4 linked regions of the Homo sapiens genome follow. The protein of the gene in region 4 purifies or fractionates together with the protein of the main gene of each other region. This does not show direct contact. Each region holds a gene or a part of one and is shown on either strand. Other genes may lie near its edges. The genes, in order: STAT5A, BMPR1A, USP33 and TLR2.

Region 1 (7,593 bases), on a different chromosome or scaffold from region 4:
CATGGTGGCCTGCACCTGTAGTCCCAGCTATTCTGGAGGCTGAGGCAGGAGGATCACTTGAGCCCAGGAGGTCAAGGCTGCAGTGAGCTGTGATTGCACCACTGCCCTCCAGTCTGGGCGACCGAGCGAGACCCTGTCTCGAAGAAAATAAAGCAGATTGCGGCCATGGGTGGTGGGTCTTGCCTGTAATCCCAGCACTTTGGGAGGCCAAGGAGGGTGGATCACCTGAGGTCAGGGGTTCGAGATCAACCTGACCAACATGGAGAAACCCCGTCTCTACTAAAAATACAAAATTAGCCAGGTGTGGTGACACATGCCTGTAATCCCAGCTACTTGGGAAGCTGAGGCAGGAGAATCGCTTGAACCCGGGAGGCAGAGGTTGTGGTGAGCCGAGATTGCACCATTGCACTCCAGCCTGGGCAACAAGAGTGAAACTCCATATCAAAAAAAAAAATACATAAAAAAAAATAAAGCAGATTGGGCATGTTGCCTAAGCAGAGGGCACGTGGTGGTCACGCCCCATCAACTTGGGTTCCTTTGACTCCTGTAGACTCTGTCCCTACCTGTGGTTGTCATCGTCCACGGCAGCCAGGACCACAATGCCACGGCTACTGTGCTGTGGGACAATGCCTTTGCTGAGCCGGTGAGTCCCCGTGGGAGCCCTACCCCAGCACCCCCAGGCCCTAGGACTCACCTGGGGTCAGCCCCACCCCTTGGGCCCCTGCTGAGTGGTCCTTCCTCACCCCAGGGCCAGCCCAGAGGTGAGGTGAGGCCAGAAGGGCTGGGGTGCTGGGCGCCTGCCTTCCACCATGGCCTTGGCACTCTGGGTTCCAGGTTCCTGGACTGGGGTCTGTGAGGACTGTGAGCTTGGTCTTTGGATCCTGGTCTGGGATCCTCCTTTGGCAGATGGCTTGGGTCCTTGCTCTCTGTTTTCTGTTTCCTGGTCTGCATCTCTGTCCCTGCATGCCCCCACCCCCTGCATCGGTTTTCTTCCCTGCAGGCTGGGAAAAAAAGTGCAAGCTAGTATATAAAAGCCGCCGCATTTCCTGCCCTTGCATTTGTGTCACCTTTCTGGATCTGTCTCAGTCTCCTCTGTCTCTAGGTGTCTGTGTATCTTGTGTGTGTGTGAATATTTCCAACTCCCTCAATCTACCTTTTCCCCTCTCTTGTCTCCCTCTCAGGGCAGGGTGCCATTTGCCGTGCCTGACAAAGTGCTGTGGCCGCAGCTGTGTGAGGCGCTCAACATGAAATTCAAGGCCGAAGTGCAGAGCAACCGGGGCCTGACCAAGGAGAACCTCGTGTTCCTGGCGCAGAAACTGTTCAACAACAGCAGCAGCCACCTGGAGGACTACAGTGGCCTGTCCGTGTCCTGGTCCCAGTTCAACAGGGTGAGGGGCCCAGCTGCCAGCCGCCCACCAGGGCCCACCGGGGTCTGTTGCTCCTCCACCTCACAGACAGGTTACTGCCTGGGGCTAGCACCCCACTCTCCACCCCCAACCACTCTCTCCTACAACCAGGAGAGATGGGGGCCCCTAGCCTCAAGAAATGCAGGCAGGGGCTATAGGAGTTGTGCTTAGTTGTGAAGCCAAGAGCGAGATGACGGAGGGCCCAGGGCTGGGAGTCAGGATCCTTGGGTTCTGGGCCTAGATGTGTTTGCTAATTTTCTTTTTTTTTTTTAGAGACAGAATCTCATTCTGTCACCCAGGCTGGAGTGCAGTGGCGTGATTTCAGCTTACTGTAACCTCTGCCTCCCGGGTTCAAGTGATTCTCGTGCCTCAGCCTCCTGAGTAGCTGGAATTATAGGTGCCTGCCACCATGCTGGGCTAATTTTTGTATTTTTAGTAGAGATGGGGTTTCACCATGTTGGTCAGGCTGGTCTCGAACTCCTGACCTCAGGTGATCCGCCCACCTCGGCCTCCCAAAGTGCTGGGATTACAGGCGTGAGCCACCACGCCTGTGGCTCTGGCTCTCCTTCTGCCTCTCTCCTTGCTAATTTTTGAAGACCCATCCATTCTCTGTGCCTCAGTTTCCCCACCTGTAAAATGAGGGGATGACTTTGGAGGAATGACTTTGGAGGCCCCATCCAGCCTAGATTATTCTTTACACCTCTTACTCCCACCCTTGGGCTGGTCTTGGACCCCTGTGTCTTAGAAGTGAGTTTCCTCTCTGTTTTCCTAGGGTACAAGTTGGGGGCTGTGTCACTTTATGGTCTGCTGGAGTGTGGTGGCAAGCAGGGGTGAAGAACTGGGAGAAGACTGGGTGGGGGCAGGAGGGCCCTGACTTTCCTGGGCCACCTGTGACCTGGGGCACCAGCCCTGACTCGGGGGTTCCTGGGCCCTCAGGAGAACTTGCCGGGCTGGAACTACACCTTCTGGCAGTGGTTTGACGGGGTGATGGAGGTGTTGAAGAAGCACCACAAGCCCCACTGGAATGATGGGTAAGGAACGGGGGCTGCAGGGTCAGGGGCCAGCTGTGGGCGCAGAGAGACTGTGGCTGTGGCCCAGTGGTGACGCTCAATGCTCCGTGCACCCAGGGCCATCCTAGGTTTTGTGAATAAGCAACAGGCCCACGACCTGCTCATCAACAAGCCCGACGGGACCTTCTTGTTGCGCTTTAGTGACTCAGAAATCGGGGGCATCACCATCGCCTGGAAGTTTGACTCCCGTGAGTGCCCGTTTTGCCCACACTCCAGCCCCAAGGCCCGGTCTCTTGTTCCCTTGCCCCGCCACCCCACCCTCCATCGGGCCTGTGTCCTTAGAAGGTACCCAGCGGGAAGCTTAGTATGAGAGGGCTGTGGCTTGGAAATGTATTCTCTTTCTATTGTTTTCCATTTTGGAGAACCTGAAGTCCCCAGCCCCATAGACTCCAGGACGGCTGGGCGAGTCCTCCTGCAGTTTCACGCTCTCCCCTCTCTGCCACGACCCAGCCTTGTTGGTATCTGCTCATCTGGTTTGCTGAGTAGAACATCCCGCATCGGCTTTCTTCCCTACAGGCTGGGGCTGCAGCGCAAGCTACTATATAAAAGCCCAGATTTCTCTTGCAAGCCTGCCCTAAAGCCCCACAACCTTGGTCCTCCTGCTGCTGGTGGATTATGGGAATGAGGCTGTTCTTTTCACAGCGGAACGCAACCTGTGGAACCTGAAACCATTCACCACGCGGGATTTCTCCATCAGGTCCCTGGCTGACCGGCTGGGGGACCTGAGCTATCTCATCTATGTGTTTCCTGACCGCCCCAAGGATGAGGTCTTCTCCAAGTACTACACTCCTGTGCTGGGTGGGTACTGCCCCAGGACCCTGCCGGCTGACTCCCCCGGGCTCTTCCCCAGCCCATAGACAAAGCCTTGGGCTGCGCCGTGGGGACTTCCCCAGGAGGAGCCTAGGGGCCATGTCCCCTGTGGGTTTTGGCCCATGGGGTGGTGGAGAGGATTTCAGGGCTCACAAATGAGGAGAGGGAACGAGAAACCCGTCCCAGCTCTCTTCTCTGCAAAGTGAAAGCTGCATGGATTCTCACTTCTGCACCCTCGGAGGAAGGGGTGGCAGCACTGTAGGGAGTGGCCGGGATCATTCGAGCCCACAGATAGTGCTCCGCTCCCCACCTCACCAGCTGCTCTCCACACCCTGCTCACAAACCTTCCCCCGAGTGGAGTGCAGGCAGCAAAAGGGAGAAGTCTCTCTTCTTCCAGCTGCCCCAAATCCATTGGTTGGGTTTGCTTGTTGATTCTCATTCTTTGACAGGGGTGGGAGCAGGGAGAGGGAAATCAGATGGCCAGAAAAAGAACCAGAAGGAATGGGATTCAAGCCAGGGGTCTCAGTGACCCTCAGGCAGGATTCATCAGCTGGTGTTTATTGGGGGTCCTTGGGAAATCTCATCCCAGCTGAGAACACAAGGTGATGTGAGCAGGAGGGAGACTACATGGGGCGTGGGCTTCCACCCCACTTGGGAGTTCCCAGAGACTTTGGTTCTCACCACTGTTCTTCCCTTGACAGCTAAAGCTGTTGATGGATATGTGAAACCACAGATCAAGCAAGTGGTCCCTGAGTAAGTGTCCAGGTGGCTGTGGCTCTCCTTCTGCCTCTTTCCTCCTCCCCCAGACCCTGCCTCCCATCCTGATCCTGGGCCCAGCTTTCCGCTCCCCCAGGGAACCTGTCTCAGCCCTGGGGAGGGAGTCCCCTCTCCTGTAGCTGGAGCCCCAGGGCCGAGTGGGGCACTTTGTCCGTCTACACCCCGAGAAAGACAAACATGCCCCTCGGTCCCCTCCCCAAGTCAGCTGCCCCGGCCTCCCTGGTGGCTGAAGCTCTGTTCTCTTCCTTCTGCAGGTTTGTGAATGCATCTGCAGATGCTGGGGGCAGCAGCGCCACGTACATGGACCAGGCCCCCTCCCCAGCTGTGTGCCCCCAGGCTCCCTATAACATGTACCCACAGAAGTAGGTGGTGTTCTCATGGGGTCCGCAGGGGAAGAACTGGGGACTTGGCCCCAGGCTGGACTCCTGGAGGGCTGGCGGGCAAAGGATCCAGAGCTCTGGTTAGGCCCAAGTCCAGGAGGAGTGAGATCAGCCAGGAAAACAGAGCATTTTGAAGCTAGACATAGCAGGGTCAAGTCCTCACTCTAGTACTAACTGTGTGATCTTGGGAAAATGATTGAGCCTCTCTGATGCTCAAGTTTCCTTATGTGTAAAACGGAGGCAAGAATGCTTGCCTCATGAGAATGGGATGAGCATTAAACTGAGACAGTGTGGGTGAAGCATTTCCACAGGGAGGGGCTTGGAAGGGCTTGATACAGGGTAGCTATGAATGGGGTGGTTGTTCTTGAGTCTGGTGGGAACAAGGTAGATAATTAATTCCCTTCCTCACTGTGGATAGCCAGGGCTGGATGTCTGGGAGGTACCACCTTCCAGTGGGACCACTGAAGATCCCAGGTTCCAATCCGGACTCCACCACCTCCCAGCCAGGTGGCCCAGAGCAAGCTTCCTGATATGGCCTTGGTTTTCTCGTCTATAAAACGGGGTCAATACCCACTCTCCAGTTGGCTGTAAAAATTGGAGTCATGTGCTCAATAGGCTCAGCTGTTCTAGGTGCTCAGTGAAAAGATTCAGCTGTTCTAAGTGCTCAGTGAACGGGGCGGTGCCTACCATTGCAGCTGAGCATCATTGCAGGTGGGCAGAGCCCACTGTGTCAGCCACCTGGTTTTAAGATGAGGACACGGAGAGGGGAAATGAATTCCCTAAGATTATTCAGTGAGTTAGCAAGAGATGCGAATAGAGTGGGGGTCTGCAGAAGCCAGTGGGCTGACTGCTACCCAGCTTGGGGTGGGGTGGGGGCATCCAGCCAGAACTGGTCCTGTTCTCATGAGACGGGTTTGAGTGGAGAGCAGGCTGGAGGCTGTCCCCAGGGAGCTTGAGGCTGTGAGACATGCCAGCTCCCTCTGACATCCCCCTGTCTTTACCAGCCCTGACCATGTACTCGATCAGGATGGAGAATTCGACCTGGATGAGACCATGGATGTGGCCAGGCACGTGGAGGAACTCTTACGCCGACCAATGGACAGTCTTGACTCCCGCCTCTCGCCCCCTGCCGGTCTTTTCACCTCTGCCAGAGGCTCCCTCTCATGAATGTTTGAATCCCACGCTTCTCTTTGGAAACAATATGCAATGTGAAGCGGTCGTGTTGTGAGTTTAGTAAGGCTGTGTACACTGACACCTTTGCAGGCATGCATGTGCTTGTGTGTGTGTGTGTGTGTGTGTCCTTGTGCATGAGCTACGCCTGCCTCCCCTGTGCAGTCCTGGGATGTGGCTGCAGCAGCGGTGGCCTCTTTTCAGATCATGGCATCCAAGAGTGCGCCGAGTCTGTCTCTGTCATGGTAGAGACCGAGCCTCTGTCACTGCAGGCACTCAATGCAGCCAGACCTATTCCTCCTGGGCCCCTCATCTGCTCAGCAGCTATTTGAATGAGATGATTCAGAAGGGGAGGGGAGACAGGTAACGTCTGTAAGCTGAAGTTTCACTCCGGAGTGAGAAGCTTTGCCCTCCTAAGAGAGAGAGACAGAGAGACAGAGAGAGAGAAAGAGAGAGTGTGTGGGTCTATGTAAATGCATCTGTCCTCATGTGTTGATGTAACCGATTCATCTCTCAGAAGGGAGGCTGGGGTTCATTTTCGAGTAGTATTTTATACTTTAGTGAACGTGGACTCCAGACTCTCTGTGAACCCTATGAGAGCGCGTCTGGGCCCGGCCATGTCCTTAGCACAGGGGGGCCGCCGGTTTGAGTGAGGGTTTCTGAGCTGCTCTGAATTAGTCCTTGCTTGGCTGCTTGGCCTTGGGCTTCATTCAAGTCTATGATGCTGTTGCCCACGTTTCCCGGGATATATATTCTCTCCCCTCCGTTGGGCCCCAGCCTTCTTTGCTTGCCTCTCTGTTTGTAACCTTGTCGACAAAGAGGTAGAAAAGATTGGGTCTAGGATATGGTGGGTGGACAGGGGCCCCGGGACTTGGAGGGTTGGTCCTCTTGCCTCCTGGAAAAAACAAAAACAAAAAACTGCAGTGAAAGACAAGCTGCAAATCAGCCATGTGCTGCGTGCCTGTGGAATCTGGAGTGAGGGGTAAAAGCTGATCTGGTTTGACTCCGCTGGAGGTGGGGCCTGGAGCAGGCCTTGCGCTGTTGCGTAACTGGCTGTGTTCTGGTGAGGCCTTGCTCCCAACCCCACACGCTCCTCCCTCTGAGGCTGTAGGACTCGCAGTCAGGGGCAGCTGACCATGGAAGATTGAGAGCCCAAGGTTTAAACTTCTCTGAAGGGAGGTGGGGATGAGAAGAGGGGTTTTTTTGTACTTTGTACAAAGACCACACATTTGTGTAAACAGTGTTTTGGAATAAAATATTTTTTTCATAAATTTGCTGCTATGGCTCCTGGTTGGGGCGTTGGTGGCCTCCCTGGGTGATGGGAACCCCTGGAGCTGGTTGTTCTGTTCCTTCCCGCGTGCATGCCTGATGCTGTCATTTTTAGTCTTAAATTTTAACTCTGCCCGCTTTGCTGTGGTTTTCAGGGTGCTGGCCACCCCTGGAATACTGTCAATGCTTCTCAGAAGGGTAAGGAGCCAGTTTAGGGGGCACAGATTCCTTAAAAAGCAGGGGACTCGAGGTTTGGGGAAATGATGGAGATGGGCGCGGGTGGGCAGAACTCTGACCCAGGCTTCTCCTTAGCAGCTGCTGCTCCCAGCAGCCTCGAAGCTGGCGGCTGAGGGCCCGGCGCCAAGATGCTTCTCAACCCTCGGGGCCAGGGGCAGTCCCAGAGCCGCAACAACCGTCCCATCCTCCTCCTTCCCAGAGACCAGCAGGTGGCACCACGCGGCTGCGCTGTTTTCAGCTGGCTGCCGGCGACTGTGCGAGGCGGAGGTGCAGCAAGCGGGACCGGCTCGCCCCGGCTGGACCCCCGCACTGCCGGCTGCAGCCAGTCCCTGCTGTCGCTGGGGCCCTTGGGCTCAGGGACGCGCGCTCCCTGGGCGGGGCTGGGAGCCAGGTTTGCGGGCAGGTTCCTTCTGAGCTCAGAGCTCAAGCGAGGGAGAGGGGCGGCGCGTGGGCCCCAAGAGGGAGGTGCAGGGG
Region 2 (7,647 bases), on a different chromosome or scaffold from region 4:
AAATGAAACTTAAAATTTTTTGTTTTTTAATATTCATACAACAGCAAAGAAACCTTATATCATGAATGTTTTTTCAGCTGGCAAACTGGCAAAGATAAAAACAGACTGATATGGCCGGGCGTGGTGCCTCACGCCTGTAATCCCAGCACTTTGGGAGGCCAAGGCGGGCGGATCACGAGGTCACGAGATCAAGACCATCCTGACCAACATGGTGAAACCCTGTCTCTACTAAAAATACAAAAATTAGCTGGACATGGTGACGTGCACCTGTTGTCTGAGCTACTCCGGAGGCTGAGTCAGGAGAATCACTTGAATCCGGGAGGCAGAGGCTGCAGTGAGCCAGGATGGCACCACTGCACTCCAGCCTGGCAGCAGAGCAAGACTCGGTCTCCAAAAAAAAAAAAAAAACCATCCTGGCTAACACGGTGAAACCCCGTCTCCACTAAAAATACAAAAAAAAATTAGCCAGGTGTGATGGCGGGCGCCTGTACTCGGGAGGCTGAGGCAGGAGAATGGCATGAACCCAGGAGGCGGAGCTTGCTGTGAGCAGAGATAGCGCCACTGCACTCCCGCCTGGGTGAAAGAGCGAGACTCCGTCTCAAAAAAAAAAAAAAAAGACTGATATGATTATGTTGGGAGGAGAGAACATATTCAAATACTGTTGGCTGGAATATGAATGGTTACGAAGATTTTGCAGGGTGGCTTGGCACTTTCCATCCAATCTGCACGGCTTCTCTTATAGTAAATGCATTTCTAAGAATTCATTTCATAAAATAAAAACAGTCTCAAAGGATATGTACAAACACCACAGCATATTTGCAATGCAAAAGAAAAAAATGGAAATAATCTAATTATTCATTAACACGAAACTGGTAAGTAAAATTAAGGTATAATCAGAAAATGGAATAACTGCTTAACTACTATAAAGAATGAGATGATTAAGGCTGCGCACAACACCTCACACCTGTAATCTCAGCACTTTGGGAGGCCTAGGTGGGAGGATCACTTTAGCCCAGGAGTTCGAGACCAGCCTAGGCATCATGGTGAGATCCCACCTCCACACACACAAAAATTTTTTAATTAGCTGGGCATGGTAGCATGCACCTCTGGTCCCAGCTATTCAGGAGGCTGAGATGGGAGGATTGCTTGAGCCCAGGAGTTGGATGCTGCAGTGAGCTGTTTGCACCACAGCACCACTGCAGCCTGGGCAACAGAACAAGACCTTCCCTCAAAAAAAAAAAAAAGAATGAGGAAATTGAAATTTACTGACATAAAAAGAATCCCCCTATATATTCAGTGAAAATAAATTTAAAGATAAGGATGTATCGTATGACCCCATTTTAGGAAATGGGGACAGAAAAAAAGAAAGAAGGCAACAGAAAAGAAAATTTTTTCTAGCTCTATACTTTCAACAGTGGCAATCTTGGGGCACAGGTGAAGCATGATTACAGAAGACTTTCATTACTTCATTTCTGTATTGTTTGAAATTTCAACCACAAATATGTGTAACTTCTGTTAACAGAAAACACACAGTTCTATGGTAATACGTAGTTAGGGAAACTATACTAGAGTTTCACCATGTGTATTAGCATATTAAAAGTTCTGAGAAGGTTTGTAGTAAAGAAATCTAATATACCAAAAGATTATCTTCAAATAATGATGCAGCAAAGAGCCAACTATGAGGCTTGGACCACTGAGGAGGGCTTCATAGGAGAGAGAGGAATATTCTTTTTTTTTTTTTTTTTTTTTTGAGACAGAGTCTTACTCTGTCGCCCAGGCTGGAGTGCAATGGTGCAATCTCGGCTCACTGCAACCTCCACCTCCCAGGTTCAAGTGATTCTCCTGTCTTAGCCTCCTGAGTACCTGGGATTACAGGCGTGCCACCACACCCGGCTAATTTTTGTATTTTTAGTGGAGATGGGGTTTCACCATGTTGGTCAGGCTGGTCTCGAGTTCCTGACCTCGTGATCCTCCCGCCTCGGCCTCCCAAAGTGCTGGGATTACAGGCGTGAGCCACAGCACCTGGCCAAGGATTTATACTAGATTTTAAAGCATTCTGATGGGCAAAGAACCAGGGAAAGGAAAGTCAAAGGCAGTACTGTCCAATATGACGTGTAATTTTAAACTTTCTAGTTGCCACATTTAAAAAGTAAAAAGAATCCTGTGAAATCAGTTTTGTTTTTTTAACTGAGACAAGGTCTCACCACGTTACCCAGGCTGGTCTCAAGCTGCTGGGCTCAAGCAATCCTCCCACAGTGCTGGGATTACAGGCATGAGCCACCATGCCCGGCCAAAATCAGTTTTAATATATTTCTTTAATCCAATGTATCCCTAACAGTATCATCTCACTATATAACCAATATTTTAAAAGCATAATGAGATATTTTACATCTTTTGGTACTATCTTCAAAATCTGGTACGTAATTCACACTTAGACTAGCCACAGTTCAAGTCTTCAACAGCCACATGTGGTAGTGGCTATCTATTGTAGTGGACAGTAGAGGTCTAAGGATTCTGAACCCAAACCTGAATCGGATATTTACGTGACTTAGGCTGATAAAATAGTAGGAAAGGAAGCAAAGCAGAAAAGGCTGACTTGGCCAGAGCAGGAGACCAGTCCAAGATATTCTGGATTTTCTATTGTAAGCAAATAAGAAAACAGGGAAAAATATTTAACAAATAGGGATGATGACCAAAGCAGTACTTCAGAAAGATTAACAGTTTTTGCTAAAATATACACGTACAACTTCAACATGCAATTTTTCCCCCACATTTTTATTAAATAAAAGATTATAAAATGAAGGAAGAATAATCTGTCACCCAGCGATTATATTTCATTGATTTGGTATACATTTAAGATACTTCTGAACAGTTACCACTGAAATATTTTTATTTCATGACATTTTTAAATGATTCTTGAAAAATGCAGACATTAAGAGCCTCACCAAAATTTAACAGCCTTTACTTTAATATTTTCTAACAAGAGCTTCTTTTAGCCAGGAATCTAAAACATTCTTATATACAAATTTAAAACACTCAAGACCCTATACTCTTGAAATACATTACAAAGCATTTTAATTACTAGTAAGAAAACTACCTACAAATCTTAATATACATAAAACAGTATCAAAACTATCCAAGTCAGCCAGATGTGGTGGCTCACGCCTGTAATCCCAGCACTTTGGGAGGCTGAGGCGGGAGGATCACGAGGTCAGGAGATTGAGACCATCCTGGCTAACACGGTGAAACCCTGTCTCTACTAAAAAATAGAAAAAATTAGCTAGGCGTGGTGGCGGGCTCCTGTGGTCCCAGCTACTCAGGAGGCTGAGGCAGGAGAATGGCGTGAACCCGGGAGGCAGAGCTTGCAGTGAGCCAACATGCGCCACTGCACTCCAGCCTGGGCGACAGAGCGAGACTCCGTCTCAAAAAAAAAAAAAAAAAAACAACTATCCAAGTCTCCTACAGATTTCTCACCTTCAAAATTGAGAGTCTATCTTCTCAACATTTTGATACTTTACCCAAAGGCTAAAGAAAAAAAAATTAATGCTCAAAAAAGGAGGTAAGAAAGCAGGATACGGGAAGGGCACCGCAGGCATAAGCCATACTCCCTTTGGTACTTGCAAGGACTGCCAAGGCTGGCGTGATTCTTCAGCCAAAAGTCAGAAGTCCAGTGATGTCATTAGGACCAAAAGCATTATATGACCTTCAATTTCGGCAGCTAACTGTGCTGCAAGTCAAGATATTTTCTTTCTTTTTCTTTTTTTAAGCAGAAAAATTATCTTAAAGTTCACCATGTTCCTTCTATTTTTTAAGATAAAGAAACGAAGATTCGGATTGGGTTAGTGTGGCATCCGTGATTGAATAGGTACTCAGTAGTAAAACCAGTATCAGACATTATTTATAAAAAATTAGAAGCTGAAACTTAATCATTCCGCTGCTTCTTTATGGCTTTTTATACTTCCCAAATTACCCACAATAGATGTATTGCCTTTAAAATTTTTAAAAAGCTGCAAAAACTGCTCACTTTACCGAATACTTCTGGCCGGGCGCAGTGGCTCATGCCTGTAATCCCAGCACTTTGGGAGGCCGAGGTGGGCGGATCACGAGGTCAGGAGTTCGAGATCAGCCTGACCAACACAGCGAAACCCCGTCTCTACTAAAAATACAAAAATTAGCCAGGCGTGGTGGCTCACGCTTGTGACCCCAACTACTTGGGAGGCTGAGGCATGAGAATCGCTTAACCCGGGAGGTAGAGGTTGCAGTGAGCCAAGATCACGCCACTGCACTCCAGCCTGGGCGACAGAGTGAGACTCCGTCTCAAATAAATAAATAAATACTACTGAATACTTCCAAAAACAGTCTCCTTGTCCTTTCTTGCCTAAGGTCTCACTCTGCGGGCTACCTTTCTCAGGAAAGCCTTCCAAAGTACCCGCATCCTGAACAGCCCAGCTTCCCTTATCAGTCTTGTAACATTCCCTGGACTTCCTTTTTGTAGATCTTAACATAACTACAACTAGATAATTATTTAATGTCTATCTTCTCTACCCAGGCCTTAAGTTGAAATTTCTCAAGACTGGCCAGGCGCAGTGGCTCACACCTGTAATCCCAGAACTTTGGGAGGCCAAGGCGGAAGGATCACCTGAGGTCAGGAGTTGAGACCAGCCTGGCCCACGAGGCAAAACCCTGTCTCTACTAAAAATACAAAAAGGAGCCAGGCGTATTGGCGGGCGCCTGTTAAACCCAGCTACTCGGGAAGCTGAGCCAGGATAATCACTTGAACCCAGGAGGCGGAGGTTGCAGTGAGCCCAGATCGCACCACTGCACTCCAGCCTGGGAAACATAGCAAGACTCCGTCTCAAAAAGAAAGAAAAAAAATTCTCAATGCTGTTTTAGGCTCTTTGCTAGACCATACAAGGAGTTCTCGATACGAGGTCTATAACCTATAACCTGTAATTCTATAACCTATAACCTATGTCTTCCTCTGCCAGATATATGCACCTGCCTGAAATGAGACCACAAAAGTGAAGAACAGAAAAGACAACCTCAATTAATTATATCATTTGAGCACTTAGGTCCAGCCATGTCTATTTCTAGACCTTTCAATATCATGGGGGTTAGTGGGGAGAAGCTTTTCCCTCCTTTAAGCTAACTTGAGTTAGGGCTGTCACTTGTAAGCAAGAGTCACTTGAGAGAGCCACCCAATTCCCACTGTTGGAATATAAAATCTATACAGCAATGACTCCCAAATGCCTACCTCCAGCACAAACCTCTGTCAAACCCCAGACCCATATAGACAACTGCCAAGTGGAAATCCCTACTTGGCTGTTTCAGATATCTCAAACTCCATGTGATCCAATACTATTTTCTTCTACAAACCAGCTCTCCCACCTCATTTTTCATATCTGTCACCCACATCTACCCTGCTTTCCAAGCTAGAAATCCAGGAGTTGTTCTTGCCAATCCCATTCCTTCTCTCATCCACGCTAGTTATCGCCTCCTATCCATTCCAGGCCCTAATTATCTGCCACCATCTTAACCCATTTATGCCTGAGGCTGCAATTTTTTGAATTTTTGCAATCAGACCTTGGTGATGACCTTGAGCAGGATATAAATAACTCCCACGTGCTTAGCGTTCCAATAGTGGAACACTAGGCATAAATGGGTTTAATCCGGGCTAGGCCAGAAAGACCTTCCTACAAGTTTGAACATCTTCAGTCTTCCTTTCTTCAAAATGATTTTCCAACATGTAACTAATCTCCCTAACTGCAAATGTGATTATAATATTTTATCCCTATCTCTAGCATACTCCTGTCCTCCTTCATAAGTCAACAGCCAATTATATACAGCTGGATCAAGAGCCAAGCTCCACTGTTCCAGACTTTAACAGTATAACAAATCTGTGCCATAAGAAAGGAAGGCTCATCAGAAATATAAAACTATAAAAGAGTAACAAAGTCTACAACATCAGAGTAAATAAAAGATACTCAAAGATAATTTACTCATCTATTCAATGTCTACTCATTAGTTATATATTAAACTGCCCATACGAACTGGCTTAGGGACCACAGGGGCCACCCTGAGATGGAGTCTACTGATCATCTGATCTCCCTATGCCCCTAACTAGTGTTCTTTTCAAAAAACACTACTGGGGATTTCCAGGCACATCCAAGAGCTTTGATTAGGGAGAGAAACACTATTCATCAATTCTAAGATGCATCCATTTTTCATATTTTAGCATCTCCGGAATTGGGGTGCACCTTACAATCAATGGCTTCTTACAACTAGAAGCATATTTTAAGTGGTCTGTAACACTACTGTGTATCTTACAATGGACATAACTCAATGCAAGTCAACATTTAATCTTGTGTTAAAAAGTTGGTCCAACTTGGTCAATATGGACCTTGTGATGTTAAAAAGACATCCTAAAGCCTAAAAACTAGTAAAAGGTGGGAAAGTAGAAAAGGAAAAGAAATGGTTCCTACTTCAAAATTTAGTGTGATAGGAAACCCATTTTCCTTTCTCTCCATGGTTCGCTGCTCCTAAGATCCAATAGTCAGATCAGGACAGTTCAACAGCTACTGTTAGGCTAGACAGGAGCCTTTCCCCATTTATTCCTTTTAATATGCAAGAAAAGTCCGTTACAGACCCACCCTGCAAACTAGTAGTGAAACTAATATTTGTATAAAAACTGCTATAAAGGCCAGCCACAGTGCCTCACCTGTGTAACCCCAGCACAGGGAGGCTGAGGCGAGCGGATCAACTGAGGTCAGGAGTTTAAGACCAGCCTGGCCAACATGGCAAAACCCCACCTCTACTAAAAATACAAAAATTAGCCAGGCGTGGTCCCAGCTACCTGGGAGGCTGAGGCAGGAGAATCCCTTGAACCCAGGAGGCAGAGGTTGCAATGAGCTGAGCTCACGCCATTGCACTCCAGCCCAGGCGACAGTGCGAGACTCTGTATCAAAAAAAAAAAAAAAAAAAAAAAGAAAGAAAGAAAGAAAGAAAGAAAAAACAATAAGGTATTAAAAAAAAAAAAAAAAAAAAACAGGTAAATCTGAGGCAAATACCACAGAAAATATTTCATTTAATGGAAGACCTAGGAAACTTCTGAGTGGCGAAGTGGTAAGAACTGGGCTTACAGATTAATTTAGGCAGAAATACATAAGATTAGATAAAGGAGAAAAGTGAAGGCAAGAAAATCATAACATTAGTCCAGGTGGGATGAGAACTTGATTTAGAGTTAGGGGGTGGGGGTGGAGTCGCGGGGTGGTGGGGGGAGAACTACGTGAAAGCCAAATAACACTAGATTTGAAAATAAATTCCTGAAAAAAATGTGAAACATTAAAATTCATATGAGAATCAGAAAATCGACACAAACCAACAGCTATTAAAGAAATTGAAGTGTTACTCAAAGTCCTCTCCAGAAAAAAGATCTAGGCCTAAATGGTCACATAGGGGAGGTCTTCCAAACTTTCAAGGAACAGATAATCCCAGTCTAAAATGATCCTGAAAAAGAGAAAAAGAAGGAAAGCTGCCCAACTCGTTTTATGATTTGACTACTACCTTCACACCAATATGAATTCAGAATTGCCCCACAGTTAGCAAGAATAGAGAGCAGAAGAGTTACAATATCATAAAGCAGAATCA
Region 3 (7,116 bases), on a different chromosome or scaffold from region 4:
AACTATTACATAGACCTGCATGGTTTATTGAATAACTTATAAACCACAAAGGAAATTAAATTTACAGTGTTTCTGAAGTTCAAACTTTTAAACTGTTTCATTCTATCCTAGCAAGTTCTAAACTTTTTTTGGGAAAGTGTTCTCAAACCTCAAAGTTGAATTAAGAGCATGAAAAGCCCTGTTATTAAAAAGGTACAACCAAAAGATCTAGGAATACCAAATTAGACTTGAGACCTTTGGAAATCACTCGCTTTACTTGAACCAAACACTGTGGATCAGTAAAGTTTGCATCTCTTAGCCTTATGTGCAAATGAAGCTAATAATGGTGCCTATTTCAGGGGTTGTAAAGATCATGAAAATGGGGTTCTCAAACCTGGAGAGATTTTGTCCCCCAGAGGGTATAATTTAAAACAGTCTAGAGACACTGGTCATCAGAGTTCAGAGTGGTGGCAGGGATGGTCTGTCTGTCTCTTGTGGATAGAAGTGGGAATGTTGCCAAATAACCTGCAGTGCACAGGACAATCCCTCACAGCGAAGAATTATCTGGCCCTAAGTGTCAATAGTGCCGGGATCGAGAAACCCTGATATAAAGTGCTTATCCTGGTATAAGGCCAGGATACCAGATGATTTAATTTATGCCATCAGTAGGGGGTCCTATTAGTAGAAAAATGAAGCTTTCTACTTGAAGTTTTTTTTTTTCAACTCCTAGTCCAGCCTAAGGATTAATTTTTTTTTTAAAAGGATAAAAGTGCTTCACAGTTGAATAACTTGAATATTCCCCCCTTTTATTTATCTATAAAAAGTGAAATGAGAGGGGAAAAGCAGCAAAAGTCATGGAGAAACAAACTTACATTTGTTTATAGATGTCAATTTTAATAAAATGTTTATGTAGTAGAGAAATTTCCAGTGTTCAGATTAACTTCAATTCTGAAAACTCATCTATGTTTGAGAATACACTCTTTTTACAGGGCAAACTTATATCATTCTTATGTTATCTTTTAATCATTTTTAATATGTTAACATTTTAATTTTTTTATTTTTTGGAATCTTTGCAGGCATTGTAAGCATTTATTAATTTTTTTGTGTGTGTTACTTTTCTTATAGGTGTTACCTCATTTTGAAAGTCTTGGGAAACAGGAAAAAATTCCTAACAAAATGTCAGCTTTTCGAAATCATTGTCCACATTTGGATTCAGTTGGTGAAATAACAAAAGAAGATTTGATACAAAAATCCCTTGTAAGAAACAGGTTTTTTCTTCCTTGAAAAACTATTCACTTTTCTCTTGAATGTGTAATTTTCATAAATTACTGTAATACTCTATGAGCAGTATTTTAAAAATATGTATGATGTCATTAGTGCATTAGTGAATTGTATGTGTTTGTGTCAATATAACCAATGTTGTCTTTTTAATTTCTTTTTATAGGGTACTTGTCAGGATTGTAAAGTCCAAGGACCAAATCTTTGGGCATGTCTGGAGGTGTGTATATGTTTTTTCCTGAAAAGATTGCTATAATAATAATAAATTTGGATCTGAATAATCATAACCAGAAAATTTTTGATACTTAAAGTGATTTTTGTAAATTAAACTTGCTTTTAAAAGGTCATTATTAATAACAAAAATTAAACTTTGGAAAGATCTTAATCTGTAGTGCTTTTGTAGTTTTTAGTAAATCACTCAGCTATTTTATGCTTGCCTTTTATTAGAAATGACATAGCTTTTAGCTTAGAAATATATCCTGGTTTTATTTTGTGCCTGGAAACATTTGGTTAAATTTAATGACTGGAAAGTCATTTACTCATTGAATGTAAAACAGGTAATCCAAACTTAATTGTAAATGTAATTGTAATGCTGTTATAAATTTACATGTATATTATAAAGTACCTTATTTTTCTTCCTATATAATTATTTATAGAATAGATGTTCATATGTTGGCTGTGGTGAATCACAAGTAGATCACAGCACCATACATTCTCAGGTATGTATATAAAAAATTTAATGGAAGACTTGTTAAAAAAAGTGCCTGAAGGAAAGGGAAAGCCAGTATAACATTATTAATTCAAGTTGTAATTCAAATTTGCACTCTAAGTTAAAACTTCACTTACATTCTCTGTGAAGGATGGGGAAGGGAATTGCTAGGAGGATGAACATTAGAATGAGGTTGTGATTAAGAAAGCACTGATTTCAAAAGTGTACATCCGGCCAGGCATGGTGGCTCACGCCTGAATCCCAGCACTTTGGAAGGCCAAGGCAGGTGGATCACCTGAGGTCAGGAGTTCGAGACCAGCCTGGCCAACATGGCGAAACCCTGTCTCTATTAAAAGTACAAAAAAATTAGCTGGGTGTGGTGGTGGGCACCTGTAATCCCAGCTACTCGGGAGGCTGAGGCAGGAGAATTGTTTGAACCTGGGAGGCGGAGGTTGCAGTGAGCCGAGATCGTGCCATTGCACTCCAGCCTGGGCAACAAGAGCGAAACTCCATCTCAAAAAAAAAAAAAAAAGTGTATATCCAGATATTTGAAGGTGATAGCTGGCATATTAGGAGGTTGAAGCCCAAGAGAGAGTGGGTGCTTAGGTTTATGACATGGCCTGGCTAACTTCTTTAAGTCTCAGCTCATGTCATATTGCCTTTTCCTGCACATAGTCCTAACTGGACTCACCTTTCTGCTTTGCTCTGGTTGTTTGGTACTTCCCATGTAACTCTGGCATGCCTCTTCTATAGTGTTATGTAGAGCTCCCATTCTAAATGGAAAGTTTCTCGAATGACTTTGTTTTAAGATGCACATTGATACCTCTACAGCATCAACTGTTCTCAACCAGGATTCCTCTATAGAATTAATTAAGCCTGAATACCCAAGCTCTGAGTCATCATTGTATATCATTTGCCTCTTTCTGTGCATCTAAGATGGTATTTGCTGTGTACCACCATTGGGAGAATTGATAAATTAGTCACTCAGATCATTTTTTGTAGGGCTTAATTCTGTAGCAGAACTCTGGTTGTGAAAGGCTAGACTTTTATCTTTCCAAGATTATATATTCTGTATTGCTAGAGCTGTTTTATGCCTTGACTCATGTCATTTGTGTTCTTTTGCCATTCTGATTTCTTAGAATAGTTACTTGCTATTGTTAATTATTTTCTTGTGTTATATTTATTTGTAGACTGCAAAGCAAGGTCTTACACTCTTGCGTTTATCTTTTTGTATAATGAATAGTGAGGGGAGAATGGCAGAGTAATTTCTAGAGTAGGCTTAGATGTTGTTACTGTTTATTATACCTTAGAAGTTTATCTAAAGAATTTTTTTCATGTTCTAAATTAGCTTTTGAGTATATTGTTACTCATCAAAGGCAAGCAGTTTATCTTCTGTTATCTTTTGAAGAAGTCTTTTCAAGTATATGTAATTTTGGTTCCTCTTTTCCCTCTACTGTGAAATTATATAGGAGACAAAGCATTATCTAACTGTGAACCTTACCACTCTTCGAGTATGGTGTTATGCTTGCAGCAAAGAAGTATTTTTGGATAGGAAATTAGGAACTCAGCCTTCATTGCCTCATGTAAGACAACCTCACCAAATACAAGAAAACAGTGTCCAGGTAATAATCTAGATCCACTTAGTTAAGCTGTAAAACATTCCGGTAATAATTTCAGAATTTGTCATGTAGCTGAAATTTTCAAAAGGAATACTGCCTAACCTGTACTTTGAAAATTTCTGTAATGTGCCTTTTTTCTCTCAAATAAAGCACTCAGACTCCCCTTTCTTGTGTTGCTTAGAGTGCTAGATTAGGGTGAGATTGAAGCCCACCTGTTTGAAGATGGAAAAGGCCCTAATGAATTTTTGAAGTTTTTTTTTTTAAATGACTCAAGTAGTCTTTATCTTTTTCTGGTAAGTCTGATTTCAAGAAAGGTGGTGGGCCTTCTTTGATAGCATATGGCAGTTACTAATTCAGCTCTCTTCCCCGTTCTCTCCTCCCCTCCATCCCCTTTGTATTACTGTGAACATTTTACTTATTATTGACAACAAAGTAGAATATAATAAAGCTTAGCATCAGTCTTTGGGTTAAAGATTTTTCTCCCTTTGGGCTGGGTGCGGTGGCTCACGCCTGTAATCCCAGTGCTTTGGGAGGCCAAGGCGGCTGGATCACGAGGTCAGGAGATCGAGACCATCCTGGCTAACATGGTGACACCCCGTCTCTACTAAAAATACAAAACATTAGCCGGGTGTGGTGGCGGGCACCTGTATTCCCAGCTACTTTGGAGGCTGAGGCAGGAGAATGGCGTGAACCTGGGAGGCAGAGCTGGCAGTGAGCCGAGACCTTGCCACTGCACTCCAGCCTAGGTGACAGAGTGAGACTCCATCTAAAAAAAAAAAAGAAAAAAAGATTTTTCTCCTTTTGGATCAAGAGACTTAGAAAACACATGGGTTTGCTTGCAGAATTTATCACTTAATTTTCAGAATTCTTAAAGTCATAGAAAAATAGGAAAAAGGAAATTAACTTAGAATAGTTGGCTTCTTAATCAGATCATCAGTTGATCAGAATTTGATCAGATTTGATTAACAGCAAGTTTTTTTCCTCATGTGTGTTATAGAAATCACATATTTCTGTACTTGTTCATTGATACCAACTGTCAGGTTTTTCTGTTGTATGTTTGTATCACATTCTTATGGTAGATATTTGTGATAATAAATTTGCTTGCCTTACACATGAAAGATGGCTAGATTTTAGTCAAAGAATAATTTCTTGCATTTTCAGTTTCTCAGTTGAATGGCTCTAGTTAATTATAACCATTACTGTTTCTCCCACTTATACCTATTTATCATTCACAAACATGTTTAGTCTTTTTCAAAAGTCCAGATAGTATGAAAATGGCCGTTTCGTTGAATCCTCTTACATTATTAACAAAAGTTTGTCCCACTGAAGATAGCTGAATGGTAATAAGTAGAAAAAGTTTTAAAAAAGAAAAAAGTGTAATGTTATGACTAAAGTTTAATCACACAAGGAACTAATAATATATAAAGGCAAAACTATCAGCATCACTTACTAGAGAAGTAAGTTAAATAAGCTATCTGTTGCCATTTCTGCCAGAAAAGATCAAGATTACAAACTTTAATAAATGTTGAATCTGATAGAATAAGTATACTGATACTTTCCTGATGGCTTGTTAATAATTTTCTGATGACTTGTAAATATGTTAACACATAAAAGGCATAAACTTAATTTCATTCAACTTCCTTATGATCCCATTGTTGAAGAAATTATTCAGAAGAAAACAGTGGTTCAGATAGATTTCTTTAGTGGTCCAAAACTTATATGCTGTTGAAATCCAGTTTACCACAGGATATTTGCAAAATAGTAAAATATTGGAGGCCATGCAAATATTAATAAGATTTTTCAAATAGACATTTTTTCTAGATAGTAAAATTTCAGGTGATTTAAGCCTCTGTACTTCTGTGTATTTAGATATTTTGTAGTGAGCATGTATCTTTTTAAAAGCAATTACTTTATGAAAACAAAATGAAAGTATGAAGTCCACTCAAATGTCCAGTCTCTACAGATGTCAGGAAAGTAAAATCGTTGGGAATTAGTGCATATGCCTGCATTTTAGAGGTAAAGTAAGGCTATAATAACTTGGAGAACCAGAGTACATGCTAAATTCTTTCTGCTATTCAGTTTCCTTCTCTGTTTGGGTGTTGCTGAATGTTGGTTCATTGTAGTTCAATCTTCTGATATTACAAGAGAACTTTCAAATTTTGATTTTTATTTGTCGTCTCCGAATTTTTTAAACTTTAGCTCAAAGTTTTTTTCGTTTTTTTTTTTAAAGTGTTTACTAGCATTTGGCTAACAGGTTATCAGTTGCAACCTCTGAGTCAAGCCAATTGTTGGAAATTAATATTAGAATATTATTATTTAAAGTAAGTGCTTGAACTATTTAATATACGTAAAAGTGTGCAGGCCGGGTGTGGTGTCTCACACCTGTAATCCCAGCATTTTGGGAGGCCGAGGTGGGCGGATCATGAGGTCAAGAGATCAAGACCATTCAGGCCAACATGGTGAAACCCCTTCTCTACTAAAAATACAAAAATTAGCTGGGCGTTGTGGCATGCACCTATAGTCCCAGCTGCTTGGGAGTCTGAGGCAGGAGAAGCGTTTGAACCCAGGAGGTGGAGGTTGCAGTGAGCTGAGATCGTGCCACTGCACTCCAGCCTGGCAACAGAGTGAGACTCTGTTTCGGAAAAAAAAAAGTGTGCAAAGTAAATACAGTAATAAGTATCAGGAGAGATTGTAGAAGTCTATAGATAATGTGTTATGATGAAAAACTTTTGCCTTTTTCCCTGTTGAAAATGAGATCTGAGAAGACAGTGTAGGATAGTATCCTTCGGAGATCTTTTTAGCTATGGTTTACTGTCACATAATTGCAGTTATTGTGGAGTTTTAATTCAGAAAATTCGGTTGTAAAAAGTGCCTTTTTAACTCAAATATATATGTTAATAAAGCGGGACTGACATGCTATTACCCTAGGGTTTTATTTCCTTCAAAATATAAATGTAAGTTTAATTGCTAATACCACAAATTCTTATGGTTCCACTATTAAAATAACATCTCAATAATTTTTATGGTATAGATGTTATATAAGTTACAATTAAAACTTTTTTTAAATTTAAGGATTTGTTCAAGTGTGCTATCTTTTTTTGTTATCAAGGATTTTAAAATACCCAGTAATACAACATTAAAAACTCCTCTGGTTGCCGTATTTGATGATCTGGATATAGAAGCGGATGAAGAAGATGAACTTAGGGCCAGAGGTAAATTAATCCTGTGTAACGCTTCTTTGTATGGCACTGCCCATTTCTTTAGAAAACCATATAATGTAAAAGTTTCAAAATGTGGAGGTAAAATGGGCTTGATAATTAAAACAAAAGGACTCTGAAATTTGGCCTAGTAAAATTTTATTTGCAAAACAAACTTTTGGTTTCTCTGGTGTCAGTTTACCAAAGGTAGGATCCTACTTACTCTTTTGCAGTTGAGCCTTATGATCTTTTTGTTTAACTTGCCTTTTGAGGTCTGTTTGAACAGTGTTTCTCATTTTTCTATTGTCAGTGATGGGGAGGTATTAGGTATAAA
Region 4 (8,392 bases):
CTAACACAAAAATTCACAATTTAACCAATTGTTTCCCAGACACGAGGCTTACTAGAAGTGAGCCTTGTAAACTTTTATTTAGCTGCAATTTAAATAACTTTACATTTTCAGATATGTGTTGAAGACCCTACCAGATGCTTTCTTCCCCTTTGAGAAGAAGCAGGAAAAGAAAACTTTCTCTAAAGGGCAACTTGACTCTTTTCACACACTGAAGACTTTGGAAGCTGGTGGCAACAACTTCATTTGCTCCTGTGAATTCCTCTCCTTCACTCAGGAGCAGCAAGCACTGGCCAAAGTTCTTATCGGTTGGCCAGCAAACTACCTGTGTGACTCTCCATCCCACGTGTGTGGCCAACAGGTTCAGGACGTCTGCCTTTTGGTGTCGGAGTGCCACAGGGTGGCACTGGTGTCTGGCATGTGCTGTGCCCTGTTCCTGCTGATCCTGCCCATGGGGGTTCTGTGCCACTGTTTCCACAGCCCGTGGTACATGAAAATGATGTGGGCCTGGCTCTAGGCCAAAAGGAAGCACAGGAAAGCTTGCAGCAGGGACATCTGCTATGACGCATTTGTTTCTTATAGTGAGCAGGATGCCTACTGGGTGGAGAACCTTATGGTCCAGGAGCTGGAGAACTTCAATCCCCTCTTCAAGTTGTGTCTTCATAAGTGGGACTTCATTCCTGGCAAGTGGATCATTGACAATATCATTGACTCCATTGAAAAGAGACACAAAACTGTCTTTGTGCTTTCTGAAAACTTTGTGAAGAGTGAGTGGTGCAAGAAGGAACTGGACTTCTCCCATTTCCGTCTTTTTGATGAGAACAGTGATGCTGCCATTCTCATTCTTCTGGAGCCCATTAAGAAGCCATTTGCCTTAGTCAATCTGGGCTGCTATAGCAAAAATGCCAATAGACTGGGTAGTTTATAGATAAGAGAAATTCATTTCTCACAGATCTAGAGGCTGGGAAGTCCAAGATCAAGGTGTTGGCAGATTTGGTATCTGGTGAGGAACTCTTCCAGGCTCAAAGATAGCTGTCTTCTCACTGTGTTCTTGGTGGTGGAAGGGGTGAGGGAACTCTCTGAAGTTTCTTTTGGAAGGGAACTAATCCCATTCATGAAGCTTCTGCCCCCATGACCTAATCACTCATCAAAGGGCCCACCTCCAGTACCTCACATTGGGGGTTAGGATTTCAACAGATGAATTTCAGGAGGACACAGGCCTTCAGTCTATGGCTAGGATCATTCCCCAGCATTTCTGTTAAGCTGCAGAAGATAATTAACACCTAGACCTGCCTGGAGTGGCCACTAATGAAGCTCAGCGGGAAGGGTTTTAGTTAAAGAAAACTCCTAGTTTTTAGTTCGACCATTGTGGAAGACAGTGGTGATTCCTCAAGGATCTAGAACTAGAAATACCATTTGACCCAGCCATCCCATTACTGGGTATATACCCAAAGGATTATAAATCATGCTACTATAAAGACACATGCACACGTATGTTTATTGCGGTACTATTCACAATAACAAAGACTTGGAACCAACCCAAACGTCCATCAATGATAGACTGGATTAAGAAAATGTGGCACATATACACCATGGAATACTATGCAGCCATAAAAAAGGATGAGTTCATGTCCTTTGTAGGGACATGGATGAAGCTGGAAACCATCATTATGAGCAAACTATCACAAGGACAAAAAACCAAACACTGCATGTTCTCACTCATAGGTGGGAATTGAACAATTCCCACCTGGACACAGGGTGGGGAACATCACACACCAGGGCCTAACGTGGGGTGGGGGGCTGGGGGAGGGGTAGCATTAGGAGAAATACCTAATGTGAATGACGAGTTAATGGGTGCAGCACACCAACATGGCACATGTATACATATGTAACTAACCTGCACGTTGTGCACATGTACCCTAGAACTTAAAGTATAATAATAATAAATAAAACATATCAAAAAAAAGAAAAATGAGCTTGGGAGTCATCATGCCTCCTGCTCCCTTCCCCTGCCCCCAGCCCCCAGCCCCACTTCTGGCTGGGACCTTTGAAGAGTGCAGTTCCCTCTTCCCCATAATTCATTCTGTCCATCTACTCATTCCAACACACTTTTTGATCTGATTTCTATGGCTCAGCTCCAAGGTGCTTGCCTCAGTCCCCTGGCCCGCAGGAGCCCACAAAAAAAAAAAAAAAAAAAAACTCCTAGTTTTTAAAAGGGAAATATATACAACATGAAATATTCTGTTTTCAGAACTTGGTTCTATGTTAACTTAGAAGTTTACTACTATTATTTTGCATAGGCAATATTTTTGAAATGTCTTAAAAAATTACGGACATACGGACATCTGTGCAGAGTAAAAAAATTTTGAAGAATGTATGTTCATGTATAAAGATCTGTAAAATAATGCAGGATTTATGGCATATTTTCATTAAGTGGTTTTCGGTGGATGAGTTTCTTATTATTTCATCTGACAATTACAATATACTTTATGTGAAAAAGACATAGACTGTGTGTTTTGTTTTGTTTTTTCGAAACAGAGTCTCACTCTTATCTCCCAGCCTCAACACACTGGACTCAAACGATCCTCCAACCTCAGCCTCCTGAGTAGCTGGGGTTACAGCTACAAACCATCATGCCTGGCTAATTTTTGAATTTTTGTAGAGATGGGGGTCTCCCTGTTTTGCCCAGGCTGGTCTCAAACTCCTGGACTCAAGATCCTCCTGTCTTGGGCTCCCAAAGTGCCGGGATTACAGGTGTGAACCACCACGCTGGCCTTGTGTTTTCGGATAACTTTCAGATAACAGCTTAGGATTTCAGTTAGATGCTCAAAACTATGAATATATACAATGAAAGTTACCCTTTCCCCAAATATTAGTACATTTCATATGCCGTGTTGATTTTCTAACTTTAATCAACATTTTTCTTTTTTTTGGTAGAGAGTTATAGGAGGTCTTATATCTAGATACAGAAGGAGACTTGGAGTCTAACCTGGGATTTGCCACATGTTAACTGTGAGCCATGCGACTCTGGGCAAGTTCCCTAATCACTTTAACCAAAGGAATAGTAATATCAGAATTATTTATTGCATGTGTTATTGTAAGATTCAGATGAAATTCTAGATGTGAAGGTGCTTCAAAAATGTCAAGAACTAGGCCGGGTGCTGTGGCTCACACCTGTAATCCCAGCACTTTGGGAGGCCTAGGCTGGTGGATCACTTGGTGCCAGGAGTTCAAGACCAGCCTGGTCAACATAGCAAAACCCTGTCTCTACCAAAAATACAAAAATTAGCCAGGCGTGGTGGCACGCACCTGTAATCCCACCTACTTGGGAGGCTGAGGCAGAGAATTGCTTGAATCTGGGAGGTGGAGACTGCAGTGAGATGAGATTGCACCACTGCACTCCAGCCTGGGTGACAAAACGAGACTCCATCTCAGAAAAAAAAAAAAAAAAAAAGAAAATGTCAAGAACTGAACAAGTATAAGGACTGTGTCTGAATTGGACGTGCTAATAGCTTTGTGGACAGTGTACAACTACCTTCAATATATGCAGAGGACACTGATTTGTGGCTAAATAAATGATTTCTATCTGACTTTGCCAGACAATTCTAATTGACTTTGGGATTATAGAGCAATAGCATCAAAATCCACCTTAGGCAGTTCAACTAGGGAAGAGAAATAGAGAAAAAACAAGTTTTTAGTTTCAGGAGAAATAATTTGAAGGAAGTTTTCTTTTGTCAGAAATCACAAGGTAGAGAGCTGGAGATTTGGAATTAATAAGAAAGCATTTTCAGCCAGCTGGACAACCTGATGGTCAGGATAAAGAAAAATAGTAAGATAGTGACCTGTATACAAAAACCTCTCAATTTCATATTTAGGTCTATTGATTAAGTTTCCCTGATGTTCCAACCATCAGAGAGGATTAGGGATGTGGAACAGGGTAGGAGAAACAGCCCTGGATTTAAGGTAAAATTCTGGTTTCAAATCTCAGTTCTGTCATATGTTATACAATTCACATGACATTTTCTTGTGTAAGGGAGGAACAAGGATGCTTGCTCTGCTTCATATCTCACTTTGTGAAAATCAAATGTAATTATGAACATAAAAGGTAGATTATTAACATTAAGGCAGTTGAATTTTAAAAGCTTGTTTTCTTCCCTTATACATATTCCTAACCGTGGAGACAGCTAGGTTCTGTGGCAATGAAGAAAATTGATCAATGACTGTTTTTGGTATTACTTTGGGAAGTAGGGATGGAATAGGGGCAAGGGAAGGGCTTAGCTTCAAACTGTAGACAGAAGTGGGAAGCCCAAATCTTTGCATGGTGAGAAGTGGGATGGAATGTAGGTGCTAGAGATGGTGCACCAGTAGGGACTGTCACTGGATTGGGGAAAAAAATCCGGGGCTGTCCTTATCTGCTCCCTTAGGCAAAATCGTTCTGTGTTAGTCTGGAGGGTGAACCTATTTTAATGCAGGAGGGCATAGACTTTTGGGTGGAAGCGGACCCTGGAGATGTACTGGCAGGTGAATAGAGTGTGGAAAAGTGGGGAAAGGAGAAGCACGATTCATGAGCCTGAGTTCGGGCTTCCATGGATGGAAAAGCATCAGGAGTGGAATTTAAAGACGGTGTGTTTCAGGTGATGTGAGGTCCTGGATGCCCGAAGCTTCAAGAAAATACTGGTTGGGCACTTAGCTTTCCCTGTGGTTGCCAATCCCACGCAGGCCGCCTCTAGCGTCTCGATTCGCTTTTCTCTGACCTGGAACCTCCGCCAAGCCCCCAGCTCTCTTCTTCGACCCAGCCTTGCACGGGGCAGCTGTCGGGGCAGGACCCGCCTCTGGCCTGTCGCAGCCTAGCTCACGGTCAAGGGCGGGAGCCTGCTGGGAAGCACGGCCGCGGGGGCTCGCTCGGGGCCACCTGCCTGGAACTCAGCGCGAGGTCCAGAGTTCCCTCCGGCTGCGCAGCGGCGCACGTGCCCCGTGGAAGGGGCGGTTCCCGCACCCCAGAAGGAGGGGGCGCCCGGCCGCGCGGACTTTCCCTTTTGCTTACTTCCTAGTCCCGGGCAGGCCGGCTCGGAGGCAGCGAGAAAGCGCAGCCAGGCGGCTGCTCGGCGTTCTCTCAGGTGACTGCTCGGAGTTCTCCCAGGTACGTCGTGCGCTCCCCACTCGTGTGGTCTCTCTGCACCCCTTCCTGGGGTCGGGTCGGGCAGGGGCGGAGGGGAGCCGCAGCCCGGTCACGGGCTCTGGGGAACCCGGGCTCCCGTTCGGCTGCACCTGGGCCCCTAGCTCCTGTCCGGGCGGGGATAGCGGGAAGCGCACCAGGCCCCCGGGACGCCGGTGCTTCTTTGCACGGCCCAGCGCGGGAATGTGGACACCAGCGAAGCCGGCTCAGGTCGGCCCTCGGGAGAAGCAGGGGCTACACGGAAAGGGAGCCCGAGGGTCCTGCAGAGCCCGAGGTCGGGACCCCGCGCGTGCAGTGCCAATGGGCTGCGGCTGGGCTGAGCGCCCTTCCAACCTTGCAGGCCCCGGGGGGGTTGCCGCGGAGAGCTTCCGCTGGGGCTCCGGGCCTCTGGCCGCCACCTCCCTCGGGAGGCCGAGGGGGGCGGTGGCCCCGGCCCGGCCCTCCCGCTTCCCTCACGGCCTGGCCCTCCCGCTTCCCTGATTCCCGGTAGGGTCGCTCTCCCCGCCTCCTGGCCCCTCTTGGCTCGGATGACAAAGATTGGGTAAAGGCTTTCAACGAGCTAGCGTCTGGCAGGGGGTGTGTCCTCGCTCACTGGTTACTGCTAGGACGGAGCTTGGATTTTGGTCACCGTGGCTCAGAGGTGGGAAAGGTTCCGTGCTCTGGGTCTGTCCAGGACCCTGGCTCCCTAACCCAAGTCTGACCTCTGCTCCCTGGCAGGCTTCGCCCCACCTCTGCGTTCCTTCATTCTTAGGATGTGTGAGTTAGGTCTCTGATTAGAAAACAACTTACAGCGTTTAAGCAAAGTCGAGTCCTTCAAGTAAGAATGCTTTGAAGTGCCCTTTACAACTTCTTCAACTTCTATAAATATGAACTTGTGTTTAGAACTTAAATGCAAGCCAGGAAAGTCTTTTTCCTGTTTGAAAGAGAGAGAAAGAGAGAGAAAGAGGTGATTGGAAGTGGTGGGTGGGGGCGGAGAAAGAGAAGGAGAGTAATCTGGGTGTAGACAACTCAAAGTTTGCTGAGATGACTTTAATCTTTTGACTCTGTTATTAAGATTTTTACCAAAGAGCAACTGTAGCTATGGTGGCCTGACTTGAAGGGACAGACCAAACAAACAACAAAACACAAAACAAAACAAACAAACAACAAAAGCAAGAGCAGAAACTATTGGAAAATGATTTATTCACCAATATTTTAAAGGTTCTTCCTGTTCTAAGCAAGGAACATCTTTAAGTTCTTTATAATGTACCCATTTTACATTTACAAAAACTGCCAGAAGTTGACAGCATGTTTTGGGGGTTTCTAAGCTATCAGTTAATTTTTTGGGGTACAGTTTTATTGATAAACTAACAGAGTAGAAAAAATCTAATGGAATACCCCCAAATTTAAAAGAGGGCAAGAAAAGAGAGACAATAGAACATAAAACAAATGGGACAAGAATAAAGTACATAGTTGTCACAGTCCCTTGGGTGCTGCTGTAACAAAATACCTGAGACTGGGTAATTTACAAAGAACAGAAATTTATCCATTCATGGTTCTGGAGTCTGGGAAGTCCAAGATTGAAGGGCTGCATCTGGTGAGGGTCATCTGGCTACATTATAACATGATGGAAAGCATCACATGGTGAGAGAGAGCAAGAGAGGACAGAACTTACTTTTATAACAAACTCATTCTCACAATAAACTGCTCCCTTGGTGATAACATTAATCCATTTATGAGGGTACAGCCTTCATAACCTAATCACCTCTTAAAAGGTTCCACCTCTCAGCTCGCAGTGAGCCGAGATCATGCCACTGCACTCCAGCCTGGGTGACAGAGCGAGACTCTGTCTCAAAACAAACAAACAAACAAAAATTCCACCTCTCAACACTGTTGCATTGAAGATGAAATTTCCAATACATGAGCTTTGGGGCACACATTCAAACCATAGCAATAGTTCAATTACTTTAAAGCCCAAAATGTCAGTAATTATATTAAATGCAATTTAATACATCAGTAACTAAATGAGATAGACTAAATTTTATGATAATCAGACTAATATTATCAGACTAGACTTCAAAACAACCCAACAATCATATGCTGTTTACAAGAGACACATTTATGGATACTAAAAGGTATAAAGTGAACAGATGCAACCATTTATCAAAAGAAAGCTGTTGTGGCAATATTACTATTAGACAAAATAGAATTAGGAAAAAAATCATAACTGTAGATAAACGTTTCACTAAGTTAAAGGTTTCACTGAGAAGAAATAAAAATTTTGAATTTATAAGTACTTATAACAACATTAAGAAACTAGAAAATAGAAAAAGAATAGAGCCAAATTGACTGAACTAGAAAAATAGAAAATTCATAGAAAAATCCACAATCATAGTGGGAGATTTTATCATACATCTCTCAGTAACTGATAGAAAAACCAGACAAAAATCAATAAGGATAAAGAAAATGCGAACACAATGTAGTTCACATAAGGAACCTATACTACTTCCAACAGCAGCTGAAATCACAGAGCATACTTAAAATCTGACCATATACTGGCTCATAGAGTAAATTGCAATACATTTTAAAGAATTTAAATCATACAGAATATGTCTTCTGACCATAATGCAATTAAAGTAGAAAAGAACAGAAAAACTTATAGAAAATTCTCATATATTTGGAAATTAGTAAATTTCTAAATAACCCATGGGTCAAAAAATAATCAGAATGAAAATCAGAAAATATTTTTAATGACTTATGAAAAAAATTACATATAAAAACTTGTCAGATGCACCTAAACTGTTGCTTAAAGGAAACTTACAACCTTAAGTGCATATATTAGAAATGAAGAGTGACGAAAAATGAATGAGCAAGCAAATACCTTAAAAACTGGAAAAGGAATAGTAAAATAAATCCAGAGAAATCAGAACAGGGGAAATAATAATATAAGAATAGAAATTAATGTGCTAGAAAATAGGGGATCTATCAAGTCAGAAGTTGATTTTTTGAAAATGCTAATAAAAATGATGAACCTCTGGCAAGACAATAAAAGCTGGTACAAATAACTCATCTAAGGAATAAAATTGAGGACCTCTCTTTTGTTAAATGACATAAGCAGGAGGCCATTATCCTGAGACTGTCTCTACACTTTGAGTTCTTACATAATAAACTGCAACCTAATTTAGTATACTACATAAACAAACTGAAACCTAACTTAGGAGCTTTTTTTTTGTAATTAAT

The links.
Region 1: the proteins of TLR2 (region 4) and STAT5A purify together in Homo sapiens (affinity purification with mass spectrometry; 2 studies listed by BioGRID and IntAct, with this or other methods). This does not show direct contact.
Region 2: the proteins of TLR2 (region 4) and BMPR1A purify together in Homo sapiens (affinity purification with mass spectrometry; 2 studies listed by BioGRID and IntAct, with this or other methods). This does not show direct contact.
Region 3: the proteins of TLR2 (region 4) and USP33 purify together in Homo sapiens (affinity purification with mass spectrometry; 2 studies listed by BioGRID and IntAct, with this or other methods). This does not show direct contact.

The regions. Positions count from the first base shown.
Region 1 is NC_000017.11:42,305,060-42,312,652, forward strand, and holds the end of STAT5A (signal transducer and activator of transcription 5A), read left to right. Parts: intron 1-550; coding exon 551-643; intron 644-1,181; coding exon 1,182-1,388; intron 1,389-2,342; coding exon 2,343-2,437; intron 2,438-2,533; coding exon 2,534-2,664; intron 2,665-3,118; coding exon 3,119-3,274; intron 3,275-3,987; coding exon 3,988-4,039; intron 4,040-4,317; coding exon 4,318-4,425; intron 4,426-5,447; coding exon 5,448-5,610; coding exon of another isoform or gene 5,611-5,671; 3' UTR 5,672-6,884; downstream 6,885-7,593. UniProt on the Homo sapiens protein: Carries out a dual function: signal transduction and activation of transcription. Mediates cellular responses to the cytokine KITLG/SCF and other growth factors. Mediates cellular responses to ERBB4.
Region 2 is NC_000010.11:86,759,587-86,767,233, reverse strand, and holds part of BMPR1A (bone morphogenetic protein receptor type-1A isoform 3 precursor), read right to left. Parts: intron 1-7,647. UniProt on the Homo sapiens protein: On ligand binding, forms a receptor complex consisting of two type II and two type I transmembrane serine/threonine kinases.
Region 3 is NC_000001.11:77,735,737-77,742,852, reverse strand, and holds part of USP33 (ubiquitin carboxyl-terminal hydrolase 33), read left to right. Parts: intron 1-1,104; coding exon of another isoform or gene 1,105-1,155; coding exon 1,156-1,236; intron 1,237-1,423; coding exon 1,424-1,477; intron 1,478-1,913; coding exon 1,914-1,976; intron 1,977-3,435; coding exon 3,436-3,588; intron 3,589-6,694; coding exon 6,695-6,797; intron 6,798-7,116. UniProt on the Homo sapiens protein: Deubiquitinating enzyme involved in various processes such as centrosome duplication, cellular migration and beta-2 adrenergic receptor/ADRB2 recycling.
Region 4 is NC_000004.12:153,679,224-153,687,615, forward strand, and holds the start of TLR2 (toll-like receptor 2 precursor), read left to right. Parts: upstream 1-5,056; 5' UTR 5,057-5,137; exon of another isoform or gene 5,138-8,392. UniProt on the Homo sapiens protein: Cooperates with LY96 to mediate the innate immune response to bacterial lipoproteins and other microbial cell wall components. Cooperates with TLR1 or TLR6 to mediate the innate immune response to bacterial lipoproteins or lipopeptides.